2 linked regions of the Homo sapiens genome follow. The protein of the gene in region 2 interacts with the protein of the main gene of each other region in a pairwise test. Each region holds a gene or a part of one and is shown on either strand. Other genes may lie near its edges.

What was found. Proteins that work in one complex are often made in the same cells at the same time.
Region 1: the proteins of ENOX2 (region 2) and ZFP2 interact in a two-hybrid assay, tested with the Homo sapiens proteins (one large-scale study listed by BioGRID).

What each region holds. Positions count from the first base shown.
Region 1 is NC_000005.10:178,930,313-178,933,712, reverse strand, and holds the end of ZFP2 (zinc finger protein ZFP2), read right to left. Parts: intron 2,477-3,400; 5' UTR 2,400-2,476; coding exon 1,014-2,399; 3' UTR 501-1,013; downstream 1-500. UniProt on the Homo sapiens protein: Probable transcription factor involved in neuronal differentiation and/or phenotypic maintenance.
Region 2 is NC_000023.11:130,899,612-130,905,450, forward strand, and holds the start of ENOX2 (ecto-NOX disulfide-thiol exchanger 2), read right to left. Parts: upstream 3,599-5,839; 5' UTR 3,438-3,598; intron 2,121-3,437; 5' UTR 2,076-2,120; coding exon of another isoform or gene 2,073-2,075; intron 1-2,072. UniProt on the Homo sapiens protein: May be involved in cell growth. Probably acts as a terminal oxidase of plasma electron transport from cytosolic NAD(P)H via hydroquinones to acceptors at the cell surface.

The DNA of each region.
Region 1 (3,400 bases), on a different chromosome or scaffold from region 2:
GCCTGTAATCCCAGCACTTTGGGAGGCCGAGGTGGGTGGATCACGAGGTCAGGAGATTGAGACCATCCTGGCTAACATGGTGAAACCCCATCTCTATTAAAAATACAAAAAAATTAGCCAGGCATGGTGGCAGGCGCCTGTAGTCCCAGCTACTTGGGATGCTGAGGCAGGAGAATGGCATGAACCCAGGAGGTGGAGCTTGCAGTGAGCTGAGATCAAGCCACTGCACTCCAGCCTGGGCAAAAGAGCGAAACTCCATCTCAAAATAAATAAATAAATAAATAAATGAAAACATTTGCATACTTATTCCATTAATTTATGGAAACCAGCCTGTAGTTAGGGGACAAAATAACAATGCAGGGGAAGATTAGGGGCATGGAAGGGTACTAGGAATTCGTAAAGGTAAATCATTTTGACTAAAAGGATCCAAGGAAACCAGATTGTGGAACAAGAGCATCTAGACTGCATACAGACAGCATAAGATCGTAAAAGAACAAAGATTTCCCAGCATTCATTATATTTATAGAGTTGTAGCATTTTAGAGCTAACAGAGCTCCTACAAGATTTCTAACTCCAAAATCATTCATTTACCAAATAAAGAACCATAACCTGGTGGAAGTAGGCAAGTTGTCCAAGGCAGTGGCAGATTAGGACTACATACCAGGTCTCTGGGCTGTCCAGTTAAACACTCTCACATTTTTCTCTCCAGTGTAAAGTCTCTGATAGCCAAAGGAGAATGTGCGGTATGATATAACAGAACTTATCTTCAGCATGACTCTTCATTGTTTATATTAGCTATTTAAACCTTCTGATATAAAGGAAATTATACATTCTGAATCAAGATTTCTCTACTTTTAGATGGATTCTCTGCAGTGGTATTATCTGATATGACATATTGTACTTCAACTGAAAGATTCCCACAATCATTACATTTATTAGGTTTCTACATTGTATGTCTCATATGATTATTACTGAAGAGTTAATCATGAGGTAAGGGCCAGTGAAAACATTCCTCACGTATGAGTTCTTTGATGTCGTGTAAGGTTTGTACTCCGGCTGAAGGCTTTTCCGCATTCATTACACTGATAGGGTTTCTCTCCTGTATGAGTTCTCTGATGCACTGTAAGGGATGAATTCTTAATGAAGGCTTTTCCACACTGATCACATTCATAGGGTTTCTCACCAGTATGAATTCTTTGATGTTCAATAAGGTAAGCACTCTGGCTGAATGCCTTTCCACATTCATTGCACTCATAAGGTTTCTCTCCAGTGTGAATGACCTGATGCACGGTAAGGGATGATCGTCCAGTGAAATGTTTTCCACACACCATACACTCATAAGGTTTCTCTCCAGTGTGAATTCTCCGATGTTGAGTTAGAGATGAATTCTTACTGAAAGCTTTTCCACACTCGTTACATTCAAAAGGTTTTACTCCAGAATGAAGTCTCTGATGTTCTATAAGATATGTACTTTGGCTAAAGGATTTCCCGCATTTGTTACATTTGTAAGGTTTTTCTCCAGTGTGATTTCGCTGATGTAGGGTAAGAGTTGAGCTCTTACTAAAGGCTTTTCCACATTGACTACACTCATAGGGTTTTTCTCCAGTATGGCTTCTCTGATGTACAATAAGATGCATGCTTTGACTGAAGGCTTTTCCACATTCATTACATTCATAGGGTTTTTCTCCTGTATGAGTTCTCTGATGAACTGTCAAATTCATGCTTTGGGTAAAAGCTTTACCACATTCATTACATTTGTAGGGTTTCTCTCCAGTATGAATCCTTTCATGCTGAATAAGAGATGAATTCTTATGGAAGGCTTTGCCACACTCTTTACACTGATAGGGTTTCTCTCCGGTGTGAGTTCGTTGATGGACAGTAAGATTCATGCTCTGACTAAAGGCTTTCCCACATTCATTACATTTATAGGGTTTCTCTCCAGTATGAATTCTTTGATGTACAGTAAGGGAGGATCGTTCAATGAAGTGTTTCCCACATACATTACACTTATAGGGTTTCTCCCCAGTATGAATCCTCTGGTGCTTAAGAAGGGATGAGCTCTGACTGAAGGTTTTGCTGCACTGATTACATTCATAGATCTTCTTTCCTACAAACATTCTTTGAGTTTTAATTAACTCAGAATTTTGTGTGGCATCTTCTCCATGTGAATTACAGTTATGGGGCCTTTTTACCATAGGAATGCTTTGCTGTGTATCAAGGATTGAATCCTGACTGGAACATCTTTCAAATTCATTACCTCCACATACTCTCATCTCAGTGAAGGTTTCCTTATGGGTAACTCCCACTTGGCTCAGATGACTATCCTGTTGTCCCTCTAACCAATTATTAGGTTCCCAGGTTTCCCCTAGAGTAGAATGCCAGATACCTTCCCTTTCCATTGTTACCCCATGGCATAAATCTTCAGTAATACCCGGCTTCGGAGTTGGCTCTTTGGTTTCAAGTCTTGTCTCCCAGTCTGAAAAAAAAAAAAAATTCAAATGCACATTGGTTTCTGTGCTAGGAGACTGGAAACTGCATAAGGTAGGAATGAGAGAATTAAACTAGCTATCAACTAAAATAACTGCTGAGCACATTTGAGAGCTTTCAAACATGTACCCAAAATTAGGTAGAGAAATAGGAAGGGAGAGAAACAACAGTGAACTGATCCAAAGATAACAGGGGAACTGAAAGCAGGGGATGGCAGATGTACTGCATAAGCAGAGAAAAGAGTGAGCCCATTCAGGAGGGATGGACAGTGAAGGCACTGACCACTGGAGTAGGCTACATAATGAAGATGGAACTAAGGAAACACATGCAGAAGAGCTGGGATTGGGAAAGGCAGATCAGGAAACCCTGCACACTGTACCTGGTATTCCTGCCAGAAGTTTCTTTCCTCCTACGAGGCCACCTAGAATCCTACACCAAATTAATCTTCCTAAAATGTCACAGTGTGACACAATGTAAAGATTGCTGACTCAAAGTCAGACAAACTTGGATTCAAACCGTGGCTCTTAACACCATCTTAACTAGTTACTTGTCTCACTGGCTCTGAGGGTCACAGATATAAAATGAGGATTAAGAAATATGGTCAAGCCCGGGTGTGGTGGCTCATGGCCGTAATCTCAGCACTTTGAGAGGCCAAGGCAGGCGGATCACTTGAGGTCAGGAGTTCAAGACCAGCCTGGCCAAAATGGTGGAATCCCATCTCTACTAAATACACAAAAATTAGCTGGGCATGGTGGCAGGCGCCTGTAGTCTTAGCTACTTGGGAGGCTGGGATGGGAGAGTTGCTTGAACCCAGGAGGTGGAGGTTGCAGTGAGCTGAGGTAGTACCACTGCACTCCAGCCTGGGTGACAGAGTGAGACTCTGTCTCAAAAAAAAAAAAAAAAAAAAAAAAGG
Region 2 (5,839 bases):
TGTTGACATATGAGCTGAGTCTTAAAGGCTGAGGAATTTCTTGCATGCCTAAGGGTCACAGATCATGGTCATATTCCTAATCAGTGCCTTGAATATTTGTGCTACTGCTCTCAAGGACACTGAGTAAGGTGGGAAGGATGTTTGTGTGTAATCCAAATCCACTCGAGTGGTAACTATAGCTTCCATTGTAATCTTAATGAACATAGAAACATAGCATGTTTTGGCAATATTATTGCTCACCATACAATATAAAGGACAAGAGGCAAGGGGGGCATGCAGACTTTTAAAACAATTCTGGTAACACTGACAAAATAATATTAACATCCACCAAGTCCTAATAATTTTACCTCCTAAATGTTTCTCAAATCTCTTCGCTCCGCTCACGTCACTACTCTTGGGTCTTTATTGTCTCTCTGTGGAACAGAGTAGCAGCCTCATCATATCCACCTCCACTGTATCCTTCCCACTGTCATTTTCCTTACAGTAAAAATCTGATCGTGGTGCTCTTCTAAAACATGTTAATGGTTTCTTATGGCCTACAAGCAGCACTTCCCAAATTTCAGTCTGAGTATTACTTAGTGATTTTTACCATATTCACACACAATGTGTACTATTACTACTTAATATTTGTCTTTAAATGAACTGAAAACTGGTTCACTTTCTATTTTTATGAAGTAAAATCCAAAGTAATCTTAGATGTGATGGCTTAGTTCAGTTTTATGTTTTTTAAGACATATTTGAACATGTAACTAGTAAAATTAAAATGTTTGTGGGAGCACAGTGTAACTACCACTGGCAGATGCCCTACGTTTTGAGAACCACTGACCTATGGGGGCACATTCCAACTTAGGATTGCAATCAAGGTTCTTTGCAAATCAGCCCCAACCTCTTTCCAGACTCTTCTCCTACCCATTACAGTTTCCTTTTACTCAACTATCTGCACTCCAACCATGCTGAATTCTTCCACATTGAATGAACATGCCCTACTCTTATACAGCCACACATCTTTCACAGACTGACTCCTCTATCTGAAATGCCTCCCCTCCACTCCTTCCCTGCCTGGGGCAAACTCACTATCCTTCAAGACCTATCTCATGTCACCTCCTCATGGAAGCCTTCTCCCCGAGTCTCCCTTACAGTGAGTCACACCTTCCTTTATCCCTCCATAGCATTTTGTACCTGTCTCTGTTATACTACACACTACAGTATCTCAGAACTGTGGGCATCCAGCTCCCCAGCTAGACCCCAGGAAGAGTTCACACCTTGTACTTCATTGTTTCTCCAACACTTCACGTGGGCAGAGGTCATGAAAGAGATCTAGTGTCCCAGGTAACTTCTTAAAATGCTAAAATAAAATACATCCAAAGTGCTATCAAGGTCCAAATAGCTTAGAGGTATGATATGTGTTATAAAGAGAATCATCTAATTCAGAAATAGCCGTACTGACTATGGTTTTGGCAGACACAATTAGCTACAGTTGCAATGACAGTTAATTTGGTTTTGGCAGCTACTTTACAGCAAATACATTCTGACATAGAAATTTTAAGTGAATCATTTGGGTTTTGGCCAGGATGATGAACTATACCTATCTCTCCTTACCACAACTGGAAAGTCAAGAACAAGAAAGAACATTGGGAGCAGCAAACCATGTTGAACAGAGCATGGGCTTTGGAGTCAGAAATCTGTACACCCAAACCTCAACTCAACTTATAATCTATGTGACTTTAAGTAGATTGTTTAACTTCTGTGCATTTTAGTGTTTTCTTCTAGAAAAAGAAACAGGAATAATAGTACCTACTTCATAACACTCAAGATAATGCAACAAAGTATTTATGATGATGACTAGGACATTATGTGGGTTCAATAAATAGCAGTCATTATTGTCACCCAATGAGATGACTACAGTTCAGATAATGTGATGCACGGGGACAGCAAATGCATTTCTTAAGAAAATATATCGATGTCTCTAGGCTTTAAAGTTGACAGCTATAGACTGTAGCTAAGAATAGCTACAAACAAAACATCTGCAAGACAAGCTTCTTCTTGGATTTAAACTCACACCTGGAACATACCATCACACTTCTTTGTGTTCTCCAAGAATTGATCTCAAATCAGGTTCCCTAGGATGAAAAGAAAAATCATCCAATCTTAATTTTTGCCTTCAATTTTATTTGATACAGAATAATATCCAAACTATGTGTATGTTTCAAAGTATCATGTTATTATGACCCCAAGCTTCTCCACCCTATTTATTTCCCAGTATATTTGTGCTGATATCTTTTATTCCAATCAGGCAAGCCCACCTGTCTCACAGTGCTCCCTCTTCTGTTTACCCTTCTCAAAGTCCAATCTCAGTAGCAGGAAGCATTTTCTCCCTCCTCTTTGACAACTTCAAATCCCCTGTACTCTGCTGGAGCCCAGATTAAAATTCACCTCCTTCACAAAGCCTGAAAGCCGGATGAGGGCTTCAGCACTTCCCGGGTTAGGCTTGAACTTCCATAGATGAACTCACCACCCCCATCAGTATGCTCTTCCACTGACCCCTCTTAGCGTTTTTTGCACACGTTTGTAATAATACAATGATTAATATGGTCTGTTTCACACGGTCTACTTTATTCTGTAGAATAAAGGTGTGCCCCCTAAATGTTTGTCAACATTAGTGCTATCAGTCTTTGCTGGAAACCCCTAAAGCGCTGGATTTTTATAACCAGTCTAACTTGCCTTTTACTCTCACCAGAACCCTGCACTGAACCTTAAACACACATTTCTCAAAAGCAAGATTCCTTCCCTCTTTTGCTTCCCATCCCTTCTAGAAATTGAGGGGAAACTCTCCCCACTTCAAAGACCTGGTGGGGGAAGTGGCAGGTGGCTGAGGGGCCAGTAAAGAGATGGCGATCAATTAAGGAGGCAAAAAGAGAAAGTTTGAAAAAAAAAAGTCACGCCCTGAGCGTGGCAAGGAATTCCCATGCCCCAAAGAAAATGGGGAGTGTAGCGCAGGGAGGGTTATGTGCCCAAACCTGAAATACAAATTGAGGGAAAAGAGGAAAGAGATCACCCAATTCCTGCGGTAAGAATTAGAGTCCAGTCACCGCCTAGGCAAAACCCTGGACGCAAACCCCAACTTCGGACCTCTGAGGAGGCACAGAGCCAGGGGGAGGGGGGCGGCGTCGTGGGAAAAAAAAAAAGGGGCGGGCGAGTTGGACCAAAAAAAAAAAAAAAAAAGAGCAAAGACAGCGCGCTCCCGGGCTCAAGAGAACTGGCGCCTAGAGCTCAAAAGCCCACCCCCGACTCCCAGTCCCGATACCCCCTCCCCTGCAGAGGTGGAGCTGGGTGGAGTTAGGCGCTGAGGACCGCGGCCCCGGAAGCACCCTCCTCCCTAGGCCCCCTCAGTCCCACAGTCCCCAGCCACGGCCACCGGGGCTTTCTGCCTCTCTGACCTCCAGCTCCCCGGCTACCGAAGCGCTAGTCCTTATACAGCCGCGGAAAATCGGGCCGGCGCGGCAGTTCCTGGGCTCGTAGTGCCCTCGCGGCGCCCCACGCCGCGCCACTCTCTTCCGAAATGCCCGCCTCGCGCTTCCAGGCCTAGACCCGGCACTCTGGCCCAAGGCTGGACTCTCACACACAGGGTGCCCACTGCGGCGTCTCCTATTGGCTACTGGTCACCGGGGAAGCCGGAGGCCCGAGCCCATGGCTTCATGGGAAATGTAGTTTGAGGTCGCTGGAGGCTGTTCTTCCTGGGGGTAACTCGTGTTGACATTGGCAGACAGACACAAGTGAGGACCGAGAATTATGGGAGATGGAGTTGCGGGACACTTATTTCTCTATACGCACAATTCTTCCCCTCCCCTTCCGATTGTCCCCAGCGTTCAGACGGGGAAGGGTATTCTGGGTATTGTAGTTTGGGTGCACTGTCTAGAGAATCTCTCTTGGGGTTATGGGTTTGTGCTTGTGGGGACAGACGAAGGCTCTAGATTTATTTTCATGTCGGTTAAGCTCTTAGCATTTTGCGGGAAGCACTTTCTATCGTGATTTGAAATTGTTATTGAGTTTTAAGTGTTTTTCAAAAGATGATGTTTATTCTTTGGTAAGCTTAGAATTTTAATTGAGAGTTATAGTCCTTTAAAATTGTTAAAGTGTGTTCCTTGTGAACCACCTGCATTAAAATCACTTGAAAGGTATGGAAGAATGTATATATTTTTTTCTAATTGGAAATTATAGTTCCCCCTGGAAACAGTGTCATAAATAGGCATAGAAATGTGATCTACACCAGCCCAGAAGAAGCCTATTTAATCCATAATGAAGCTATGTTGTTGCCATGAAAAACAGTGGCCACATAAACTGCTATAAATAACAATTTAGAACAGATAGACAATACAACTTAAGTACAAACGAGTAACTATATGTGTCTTTAAGAAACTTAACCTTTTGAGTAAAAATATGTTACAAGAGCTGGATAAAGACATAGGTGGGGAATGCCAAGCACTTCCAAGTGACTTAAAGGTTGAGGAAAATGGTTGTTTATTAGGGCTAATTTCACTCCCAACTTTTGACCTTTTTTTTTCTCTGTTAGAGATGAATCCTTGTAGCCTTGTTACAGTTGAATTACTACAACTTCTTGATGAGGACAACTTTTCGACTCACGAGTAAAATGAAGGGAAAGACAGGGGAATTGCATTTTGCTGAGGTAATTGCCCAATATTTTAAAAAGATAAGTGAAGGAGGAAGACGATTTAATAAATTCAACCATTTATTCAGCATAGTGCTTTGTGCAAAGCTCTGGGCTAGGCACTGTTGCCACAGAATTGGAAAAATAGTCCCTACCCTCAAGTAGCTCAAAATCCAGGTGAGGGGAGTTGTAGTAGAGGAGAATCTGGGGGGAGGAATAGATGAGTATACAATGTGCAAAATGCTGTAAAGAAGTCTACATAGGGTTCTATAGGAACATAGAGGAGGAAGAACTTGTTCTACTTCTGGAGAACTGGTTGAAGAACCAGTAAAATATTTGTCAGATTTGGGGCAGGGAGGTCAACCATATTCTATACAAAGCATATGCAAAGGCATAAAGGCATGAAAGAGTGCAGAGAACAATAGCAAAAGTTCCATATTGCAGAGACTAGATCAGGCAGCAACAAGGGGTCATATCAATTAGTTCATAATTTAACTTGAAAGTGGGAGAGAACCATCAGAGGAATTTTTGTGCTTATATAGTGTTTATTTTTTAAAGCATATACACATAGAACATACTGGGAACACATAGCTAGGGTATTATGGGGAATCATTCTGGAGGGTGGTAATTGAATTGCTATATTATGTTTTAATACTTTTTATACTTTTAAATTCCTCCAGGAAAATAATTTGCTTTTTTAAAAAAAGAAAAATCGGCTGGGTGCCGGGGCTCATGCCTGTAACCCTAGCACTTTGGGACACCAAGTTGGGAGGATTGCTTGAGCCCAGGAGTTCGAGACCAGCTTGGGCAACATAATGAGACCTTGTCTCTACAAAAAATCAAGAAAATTAGCCAGGCATAGTGGCGCATGCCTGTAGTCCCAGCTACTCAGGAAGCTGAAGCAGGAGGATCCCTTGAGCTTGGAAAGTTAGGGCTGCAGTCAGCCGATATTGTACCACTACACTCGAGTGTAGTGGGTGATAGAGCAAGACTCTGTCTCAAAAAAAATTAAAAAATTAAAAAAAGAAAGAAAAAAGAGAAAAAGAAAAATCACCTCATTTCAGCCATAAAAAGGAGTGAAACAAGGCATTTTCAGTATTATGGCCACCAGAAAAACATTGTGTGAATCAAATGCAGAATTTCTTTTCTCAGCTTTGTCTCCTTTCTTTTTAT